Regions from separate parts of the Homo sapiens genome. Here region 2 is linked to region 1. The links come from fine-mapping of genetic effects on gene expression. Tissue or cell type: lung. Region 1 holds a variant in brackets; the other region holds the start of a gene. All regions are shown on one strand. Distances are from middle to middle. Region 1 overlaps CPVL (carboxypeptidase vitellogenic like). Region 2 holds the start of CPVL-AS2 (CPVL antisense RNA 2).

The links. PIP is the estimated chance that this variant, and not a neighbour inherited with it, causes the effect.
Region 2: CPVL-AS2 starts here. The variant in region 1 is fine-mapped to the expression of CPVL-AS2 in lung (TOPMed, PIP above 0.99). The same link has a PIP of 0.9 or more in spinal cord.

The regions. Positions count from the first base shown.
Region 1 is chr7:28,993,028-28,998,411 of GRCh38, forward strand. It overlaps CPVL (carboxypeptidase vitellogenic like), which reads right to left. Exons shown (of 13, transcript NM_031311.5): 13 at 2,208-2,855. The coding sequence ends at 2,745. CPVL-AS2 (CPVL antisense RNA 2) reads left to right here. Exons shown (of 5, transcript NR_038965.1): 2 at 3,138-3,224. Among named protein-coding and RNA genes, the nearest start is that of CPVL-AS2, 16 kb to the left of the region's middle. The variant G/C (reference allele first, on the strand shown) is at 3,231.
Region 2 is chr7:28,976,714-28,982,097 of GRCh38, forward strand. It overlaps CPVL-AS2 (CPVL antisense RNA 2), which reads left to right and starts at 3,254. Exons shown (of 5, transcript NR_038965.1): 1 at 3,254-3,385.

The DNA of each region.
Region 1 (5,384 bases):
GGCATGCACTGTACTTGGAGAGTCTCTACACAAAGGACTCTCTACAATTAAATCCAAAAACTAGTTTTTCTTTAGTTTCCCTTTCTTCTAAAGTAAAATACTTGCCAGATTCAATCTTTTCCTTTCTTCTTCTAAAGTAAAATACTTGCCAGATTCAATCTTCATAGAACTGTATCCTCAAATGAGTTGGCTAGGGTTGCCCCTGGAAAGTCTGCCAACTTCTGCCCCCACCGCCACCTCAGCGCTCCCCACTGGCCTAGTACCTGGGTCAGGGTGATGATAAAAATGAAAACATCTACAATTTCCATGTATTGAGCCATTATCCTGTGCTATTCCCTATGCTAAGTGCTCTGGAAAGATATCAATTCTCTTTATCCACTGTAGCTATGTTCTGTAACATCTATGCAGACAGAATTAGCAAATTCTGAACCATTGCTTCTAAGGCAAATACAGGTTTAGGTTCCTTCAAGCTTGTGGGTCACAACATTCTTGTCACCTGATCAATACATAACCTTAAGTGTGTTTCTTAGTCACCTTTAAAATGTTGATTCATTAACGTGGAACTCAGGGCCAACAGCACTTTAACTCATGCCTGAAAAAAACAAAATACCTGCTTGTATTTTCTCTGTAAGTCGCTTCACAGTCTTCTTGCACACTAGTCAGTACTTCAGCACCGTGCTTGAGGCCATTTTAAAAAGCAAAATCAGCCACAAAAAAAGCACAAAAATGCGAAAAAAATGTGGCACTAAACAGACTTAGCAAAGGACAATTGGGCTGGGTGTGGTGGTTCACACCTGTAATCCCAGCACTTTGGGAGGCCAAGGTGGGAGTATCACCTGAGATCAGGAGTTCAAGACCAGCTTGACCAACATGGCAAAACCCCATCTCTACAAAAATATAAAAATTAGCTGGGCTTGGTGGCGCGCACCTGTAATCCCAGCTACTTGCGAGGCTGAGGCAAGAGAATTGCTTGAATCCGGGAAGCAGAGGTTGCCGTGAGCCGAGATCACACCACTGCACTCCAGCCTGGGCAACAGAGCGAGACTCCGTCTTAATAAGAAAAAAAAAAAAAAAGACGATTTTTTACAGTATGAAAGCTGAAACAAGAAGGCAGAGCGTCTCCTTCTTTGACCCCAGCTGGGAATGTATATGTTGGGCAACTGAAATTTTTTGCCACTCTGTACATGACCTCAAAAGAGCAAGTGTATTGATATTGGGGTTACAAATACATTTTTTAGCAAGTAGACTCCATTTGCAAACATGGAATTCTTGAAATAATGAGGATAAACTGGATCATCTCATAGTACCCTTGTAAATAGGTACTACTCTAGTGACATGTGAACCCAAAAGAACCTCAGAAGTCTCCTCTTCTGGCTACCTTCCTTGAGTTTTTGGGAGGCTGGTATGGTGAAGTGACTTCTCCTAAAACGTCCAGTGCATGTGTGATCCATATGAAACTAAACCCAGGTCTCCCAGCCAGTCAGTGCCCTTTCCAGTACATAGTTATGAGACTAAATACAGCTAATTTAACTTGCAGATGGGGCTATATGAAAAACTTCTTGCGTCCTACCCTGTCCCAGTTTATTCTCTGCAATAATTAAAATCTGCTTTTGATCAGAATATTTGATTTAATGACTTCTAGGACATGGGTACAATGAACAATTTAAAAAGGAAGATCACAAACCTGAACGTAATCAGGCACAACATGAGAAATTAAAAGAATAAACTCCATAAACTATTTGCCGCAAGAACAGGCTTTGACTTTTTAAATTTAATTCTCCAGTGAGCCAGTTCATAGATGGGTAATATGAGAAGGAAGTGATGTGGAAAAATCCACACGTCTTGTAGAATTTCAGAGATGTGAGCACATGATGCATAAATCGAAAAGATGTGCCAGGATGTGACATTTTAGTCAGAAAACTGCTAATGAATGTATATTTATAAATGTATATATTGATGCCAGCTTATCTTAATTTTTTTTGATATTCTAACAATGATACAAAATTAGGTTGTTCTTTATTTGGGGAAAAGAAGTAGAGAATTTGAAGCCCAAATTAAAATGGCTCTTATAACTAATGTAGCCTGCAGGCTCTTTCAGAAGTGTGTACACCTCAAACTCAAAGAAGGAAAAAGAAAATGAAAAGGCAAAGATTAAGTTTGTTCTCTGCATAAGAGCATCTGCTTATCAAGAATTGACTCATCATTACTTTTATATATAATATTTTTATTTCAAAGAATTCTTTTGTTCTAAGACTTTATACATTTGAGAATCTTTTCCCCAAAACTATTATAGCTTCATCCATTTATTTGGGATAATTGAGCTATTCTTATCCAATAATATTTCCAAACACCTTCACGGCATGCCAAACTTCTGTTATTGGCAGAAAAAGATGTTACAGCTTTGTTTGTTACAACTGCACTTTTCACTTACTCTTAGAAGAAATTAAAACTTCCTATTCAAGACCCTAAAATTTCATTTATACATCTTGTCTCAGTGTCACATCATCCATACCTTTCATCCTTTAAGTTAAATAATGTAATTCTTACTCATGTACTCATGTTAATTTTGTAGTAAACATCTCCCCCCAAAAACAAAAGCTCACTTGTTTCAAGGATAATTTTTATTGATGAAAAAAATCTTGCAGATATGAAAAGATAATTTTTTTATTCCTATGACATTTTCTGTTTTTACGATTTTCTTTTCAGCAATGAAAACCTCTGATGTTCTCTTTTGGGAAGGTAGTTTATCCAACATAAGGATCCCATCCTTTTCCATAAATGAATCGATTAATCATGTCAAAAGCTCTCAGAGGCTGGTCATAGGGTAAAATATGTCCTCCACCTCGAATAATTACCTTAAAAAGAAAAAGTAAAAGAACGGAAATTTAGAGAAATGGATATTCTAAATACATGGAAAGTTTTCATTCAGATTAAACTCTATTTAAAACTCACATGAAATACAGAACATATTCTCCCAATGCATGCCTTTGGACAAGCTGCCTATCTGGCTGTTGATGGCTTTTGTAACAGGCATGTTAAGGTAGAAAAGTTTTAAAGCTTAGTTAATTTTACGCAAAGTTGTATTCTTTTCTCATGAGTGTAAAAATTGAAAATTATTCCTTGTCTTTTTCCTCTAGAGAGTGATCTGCCTGCTCCCCGCAGTTGAGAGTGCTGCACTGCAAGTGTTACCTGGTGAGGCCCACCTCCAGCCCACTACTTCTGGGGTATGT[G/C]AGGTCTGCCTGCAATGGGGTGGATTGTCTACTTAATTCCACCCTTCAGTTAGCCAGCCCAATTGTCCCTCACACTGAGCCATACCTTCCATTTTAGCCTTTATCAGTAATGAAGGGGAAATTTTGGTTCTCAAAAAAATTAAAAAACCAAAAACATCCTTGACTGAGGCAGGAAGATGACCTGAACCCAGGAGTTGGAGTCTGCAGTGAGCTAGGATCATGCCACATGCACTGCACTCCAGCCTGGTTGACAGAATGAGACCCCATCTCTTAAAAAAAAAAACCAAAAAACAAAAAAAAAAAAAACAAAACAAAAAACTTGACACTTGAAATGAAAGAAAGTCATGTTTTGAGCAGCATAGAGTTAGAACATTCTTTTTTTTCCTAATATTGGATTATAAAACATTTTAAAACATAGCAAATTCGAAAACAATTCATATAGTGACGATTTTGAGTCATGAACTTTCACTTTACTTGCTTTCTCACATAAGGGTGCCTCTATGCATCCCACACCCATCCACTAATCCATCTTATATTTTTGACACATCTCAAAGTAAAATGGGCATGTAGTGCACTTCCCCCACACACTTCAGCATCACATTATTCATCAGAGTTCAACATGTGTTTACAGATTTTCTTCTTTTGAGTCAAGTTAAGATACAATGAAATGCGCTAGTCTTAAGTGTAGACTCACCAGTTCTGACAAATGCAGACACCTACGTAACCCAAGCCCTTGTTGGGTGATATAAAGCATTCCTAAAACATCTCTAATGATGAGATCCAATCAGCAAAAGGGGACTGGTCTCTGTACTCGTTAAGCCTCTAGCGTCAGCTAATATTCCAAGTAGAGGGAAACGGGAAGCTGTCATGATTCAGTGCCAAAAGGGCAAGGACTGACACTGAGTGTTGGGAAGTTACATGCAGGAGAGGTCAGCCTGGCCTGAGATGTCTCGTTCCATATGTGGAGAATGGACAGGAGGTACCAGTGCATGAAGTGAATAAACGTATGCAAAAAGGACATCACTTTCAGTAACTTCTAGCTGCAGAATCACGATCAGCAATTAAAGGTCACCTTCACAAGGCCCTTCCTAAGAGGCTGGGTTCTTCTACTTGTCTCAATCTGAAGGAAACTGAGGCAGAAAAAGTATATTTGGATAGTACATTTATTATATTGAAAATCTGCCCCTATATCCCAACACCCTCCATCTTACAACCTTGACGTGCAGTAAGTAGGATTAACACTATTAGATGATATTTACCTTGCAGCTCGCAGCTATACAAGCTGTGCACTGAACAACTACAGGGAGCACCATTCACATGAGCATTGAGATGACTGAGCTATTTGGAATTATTCAGTGGCTTGTCCAAGTCACACAATTGTTAAGTGAGATAACTAGCTAGAACCCTGACTTCTGATGCAAACACCGGTGTGGTGTTTTTAATCAAACCCTCTACTCAATCATTCCTTATCTTTGAACTGAAATTTGCAGCTTAGTCACGGAACATTTTTATTCACCTCTCAATAGCCCTCTGAGGTTTATTGATGAAAAAAATTATTGCAGATATAAACATAATTTTCTGTATTTTTGTATTTCACATATTACAGTGAGGGAGGCAGATCCCATTTGCAGATGTGGGACCAGACTTAACTCTTTCACATGCAAATGTGAAACTTTTGTGTTTTGCTGCAGTTGATCAATGGTCATTTGTGCCTCACTGCAATGACTGTGAAACCCATCTACCATTTGTGTAGAAGCTTGCAACTGGAAACCCAGCATGCCCACTTTTTATCACAAACTGAAAGTAAACATGTGTGACAAGAACCCCTTCATAGGACTCCAGAGGGAAACTTTTGCCGCCCCGCAATCCCAGGCTAGACATTTCTTCCTGCAGATTTTCATCCATATCTTTGGCCCTGGCAGGAATCTGATGAGTGATTTCTGTGCAGCTTCAGCTCAGCTGAGGACACTTAACAAAGTCATATGTGTGACAAAACCCAGCTGCTTCAACTGGAAATGAGTTTGGCAGCAATGGTCCGGAACACCAATAAATTGAATACCCAAGAGCTAAAGGTCATCCTGCCCCCAGAACCAGTGCTGCAGCTAACAAAGGACAAACAAAGGATAGCACAGTGCTTCACAGCCTGGGCTCAGA
Region 2 (5,384 bases), 16 kb before region 1:
GTGGTCTGGAGAATATTGGCATTTCCTCTCCAAAGTGAAAGACAAATTACTGTACTTTGTACCACCTATCACGAAGAAGAGCTATAATATTCTGTGGGTCTTTTTATTTTTGAGGTAACATAAACACTTTTAGAGTCTATTGTTCAGAGCAATGTTGTGAGTTACCTACTACGCTGCAAGTTTTGTCTAGGGACCAGTGCAAAAAAGGGCTCAAGAGAGAGCAGGGTTTCTCAGTCTTGGCACTATTGACATTTACGGGACAGGCAATTCTTTGCTGTGGGGCGGGCCTGTGCATTGCAGGATGTTTAATAGCATGCCTGGCCTCCACCTACCAGATGTTAGTAGCATCACTCCCCATAGTTTTGAGAACTGAAAATGTCTGCAGACATTGCCAAATATTTTCTGGGGTGCAAAATCACCCCCATTTGAGAACCATTGGGCTACAGCATGTCTAGTTAAGCTTTAAGGTGAGAATCATTGGGCTACAGCAGGTCTAGTTAAGCTTTAAGGTGACTACAGTACTGGCTGACAACTGGACTGCAGCCTCGTGAGAGACCCTCAGCCAGATTCTCCCAACTGTGCTGTTCCCAGATTCCTGACCCTCAGAAACAATGTAAGATGATAAATGCATGTTGTGAAGTTTTGGGGTAATTTATTACTCAGGAAACTCAGACAACTAATACACCAGTCCTCTGAGCCATAAGGTTAGGCATGCATGGCAGAAATCCATCATCAGGTGTAAGTAGTAAAATAGTATATACCAGGTTCGGTTTGAGCAGGTCCTTCAGGCACAAGTAAGTTTCAAGAGCAAGTGGCTGTGACTTCCATAGCATCTATTCTTGCTGCAATTTTAATTCACCATCAGTCCACATCTGTGACCTCTTAGGATTGACTGTTGACAGACTAAGAAAACATTTGGGCCTGGTTCGCAGATGGTCCCTTGCAGTTTGCAGGCACCAGGTAGATGTGGACTGCTGAAGCATTGCAGCCCAAATCAGGAACGTGGTAAGAGGAGCTCTCTCAGGACCAAACACTGAGCATGTTATCTGGAGGGAGAGATGGCCAGAAGTCGAGATATATACCAATTGATGGGTCATTAATGGTTTTATTAGCATACTGGTGACAACGAAGTCTAGGAAAAAGGTTTGCAGATGGACCTTTCCCTATGGGCACTATCACATATGAATTCTCATTAGAGGGCATCCACTGATGAGGCCCTCAGCAGTCCACTGACAGGATAGCCTGTTCTGTGGATGTCAGTCAGTCCATTTCCAGCAACCCCGAGGCTTGCTTAATAGGCTCATGAAGAGCATGGCCATTGTGGCAGGGAGAGAAGCCAGACATGAGTTCAACAATGTGGACTTCCCCTCATCAAACTGGTCTGGCTCCTGTCACTGATAAATGACTAACTTGCTGACAGGGGCTCTACCATCTCTGAGTCTCTGATGTGGAGTCATTCCCCAGGGGGACCAGTCAGCCATCAGATTATTGCATGGAACTTCTATTATGAAGGACATGATTTTGTCCTCTAGAATAGACACTATTTATTTTTTCTTTCTTTCTTTTTAAATAGAGACAGGGTCTCACTCTGTCACCCAGGCTGGAGTGCAGTGGTGCAATCATAGCTCACTATAACCTTGAACTCCTGGGCTCAAGTGATCCTCCTGCCACAGCCTCCCAAGTAGCTAGGACTACAGGCACTCACCACCATGCCCAGCTCTTTTTTAAAAAAAATTTTTTTGTTCAGACAGGGTCTCGCTATGTTGCCCAGGCTGGGACACTATTTCTAAATATGCTGTGCATTCACTGCCTGCAGTGGGTTTATCAGTACCACCATCTGTGAACTTAACACAGAGCCTTATTTAATAGCATGATGATTATGACCAAAGAAGTTCTTTGCTTGTGACCAAAGAACTAATTTTACAGCAAAAGTAGTACAGCATTGGTATCATGCCCATGGGACTTATTGGATTACCATGTACTCCAGCACCCAAAGGTAGTTATCATTACAAAATTTAGAAATAGATAACTGAAGTTTCAAAAATGGTACCATCTGGAAGATAACTGCCTGCAGTCTAGGTGGCTTTCTTACTGCACGTAGATTATGCTTTGAATCAGCAAATGAGTGATGCTATGTCTCTCATAGTCAGGATACACAGACCTGGGAGTCAAGGGGTAAAAATGAGAGTGGCTACTCTCACTATCACATCCTGAATATCACTCACAGAATATTTGCCCTCCTTCTACAAAACATAGATCAGCTGGTTTAAAGGTCTTGATTCCTAGGAGAGAACGCTTCCTCTAGGGGAAACAATAACGTTCCACTGAACTGGAATTCGATACTTCTGTCTGCCCATTTCAAGTTTCTTCTGCCACTAAATGGACAGGCAAAGAAGAGGGTTACTTTTCTGGCTGGGGTGACTGAACAGAATTATTACCAGGGAGTAATTGGGTTGCCGTGACACACAATGGTGGCAGAGAGGACTATGTCTGAAGCCCTGGAAATTCTCCTGGGTGCCTCTTAGCACTTCCATGTCCAAGAGTAAAAGTTTCTGGAATAATATTGCAACCTGCAGGACAGCTAAAGACTTAGACCCTTCAAAAATGAAGGTTTCAATAATCTTGCCAAGAAAAGAACCCCAGACAACTAACTTCAGTTGCTGGCTGAAGGTAAAAGGAAGATGGAATGGACGTTGGAAGAAGTTCATTCTCAATTATTATTTAACTATTATCATCATCAGTCAACTAGTTTTGTTACCAGTCACCAAAACAAAACCCGTAGCAGCTATGCACATTTTCTTCTTTGTTTACTCTGCATAACACTGAGTGTTGGTGGTTAATTTTACAACTTAGCCTTTAGGTTGTAGAACATCCATTATAAAAGGTGCAATGGTGTCTGAAAGGAAAAAATTTAACATCACCCTGGGATGAATACAGTGGCTGAGGCCACTATCTTACAGGGTTTTACTCTGAATTATCTGTTTTAGGGAGAGAGTGAACTTGTGTTCATCTGTGTGAGGAATAAAATTGCATTCTGTGAGGAAGAAGTGTGATGTTGCTGTAGGGTGCGTACAATGGAATGTGTGGATGCTGAGTAGCAAAAGGGTGGATGTGCTGGATTGTGTCTCTTGACTCTTAAGTCCAAGTCCACCCTTCTGGATAATCCTCCATCCTCTTTCCCAGACTCACTCATCCAGCTGGTTTCATGGGAGGCGCTGGTGCTAGGTTCCAGTGTGGGAGGAGGAGATTAGCCATTTTCCCCAGCTGGCCTGGACTGCCTGTGCTCTGGGCTCCAGCAATCCGGGGATAGTTTCAGCAAGATCAACACTGAGTATCCCTGACAGGATTCAGCCAAGGGCCAGTGGCAGCTTCCCAGCCTCTTTGGGTAAGAGCCCCTTCTTTTTTTGCTCCTCAGTCCTTCCAGTAGTTTTTAACCAATTTCCTGTGTTCCATCCTACTCTGCTTGAGATATATAGAGAGGTTTCTACTTTTGTGTTTGAGCACTGAATGATACATAGTTCCTTCCATATCAGTCCATAGTGAGCTTCCTCATTCTCTAGTCAAAAAAAAAAAAAAAAAAAAAAAAAAAACCCAAACAAACAAACAAACAAAACAGGAATACATCATATTTATATGAGAAGACCCAATAATGGATATTTAGACTGCTCTCAATCTGCTCTTTTAATCAATAAGAGTAGTAAGTACATTTCCATTTCAGGAAAGTATTATCAAGGCATATATTTGGAAATTTTTGTGTCTTACCCCACTTGGAATTTTACGCGCCAGAGCTCTTATGCAGGAATCTAAATGGCTGAAATAGGATTAAACTAGACTGTGGAATCTAGAGAGCGTTCAACTGCAGCTGGTTATTTATTGCTTAATAAGTATTTTGAAGTATTGTTCGGCTATGTCCTAGCCTTATCTCTTCCAAATGAATTGCAAGCACTCGGAGCTTGATTTTTTGTCATCTTTTGAATATGTAAATGTGTCATGTTGGGAGGGGGGTTGGTAGTACCTCCCTCCTCTGTGATTCATGTCACCTGAATGTGTCATCCTACTGGCAGTCTAGGAAGAGCCCTGCATAGGTCTTAGGTTTTCTCTTGAGGAAGGAGCTCATGACACAGCCAGCACTTCCACATAGGATAGTAGCTCAAATAGAGGTCCAGTTTGTTTTATTATTGGGCTTATTCCAAATTCCTTTCCTGGGGCACTGTGCTTTAGAAATGCTTTTTTCTTAATTATGAAATATTTTAATTGATTTGTGGGCAGTGCCTCTTATTCAGCCTGTGCAGCCAGTCCCTTTGGTCCAGCTCAGGGTTGGAGGACTGCCTGGACCTGTTCAACGCCCTCAGCCCCGTGAGGCCGCCTCAGGCCATCTCACCCATCTGACACTGCTTCCACTGACCACAGAATGAAGGCCTCTTTAGCTCTTTGCTAGCTCCATCCCCCAACTCTGTTTCTTGATTTTATCTTCTTTAATTAATGAAGTGCACTTTTGCTATCTTCTTAACTTTTAGGTATTCAGATGATTCTGCCGTTCCATTTCCAGCTCTTAGACTCGTTGAATGTTCTAAAATGGGAAAGGCTGGGTCCTGTTTATAGTTGCCTTGCCAACTCCCAATCAGCCTTTTCCTAAGGAAGATTTTTCTTTAGCCAGTCTACACTTTCATAGCAACTTAGAGTGTGACAGGAATCCTCAAACATTCAGAAGTGACTTGGCCGGTAGAGATCCGGAGTTGCATTTCTAGCATGAATATCCAGCCTTGTCCCTTGAGGGTTCAACTTTAATAATCTTTAACATAATCCCTTTAAAACACAAATCCCTGGCAGATCCAAGCTGCTTTGGTACAAAAGTTCTAGAGATTAAAACCAAAGCTGCTTTCGGTGGTAGTGCTGTTATACTGTCAATCCCATTGCCAGCCAAATTAACAGCATACATTTCTGATAACCCACCTAATGCTGGTAAGCAATCAATAGCCAGATTCATTTAACTCTCAGAAGCTTAAGTGCTGTTAAATCACATTTCCTGTTCATGGGGCTGAATCCTAGAAGATGTGCAAGAGTTGTTTTTTCAAGTACTCAGTGGAAAAAAGAAAGAAGGCATGTAAAGGAAAAGGTTTTAGTACTTATATGTTATATTGATTATATATAACATTTATATTCACTGTAATATTGAACAAAAATAGTTTATACTGATCATTTACTACACGAAACAGCATTACCTAAGATAAATGGTAACTGATTTGCTAATTTTCTAGATAGTCACATTCACAGATAAGTTCACAGCTGGATCAGATACACCGTTAACAAAAACTGGTTTTTAAAACTATCAAAACAGGAAGAACATGGAAACTTCATCCCTAAATCCTCAATGGCACATTGGA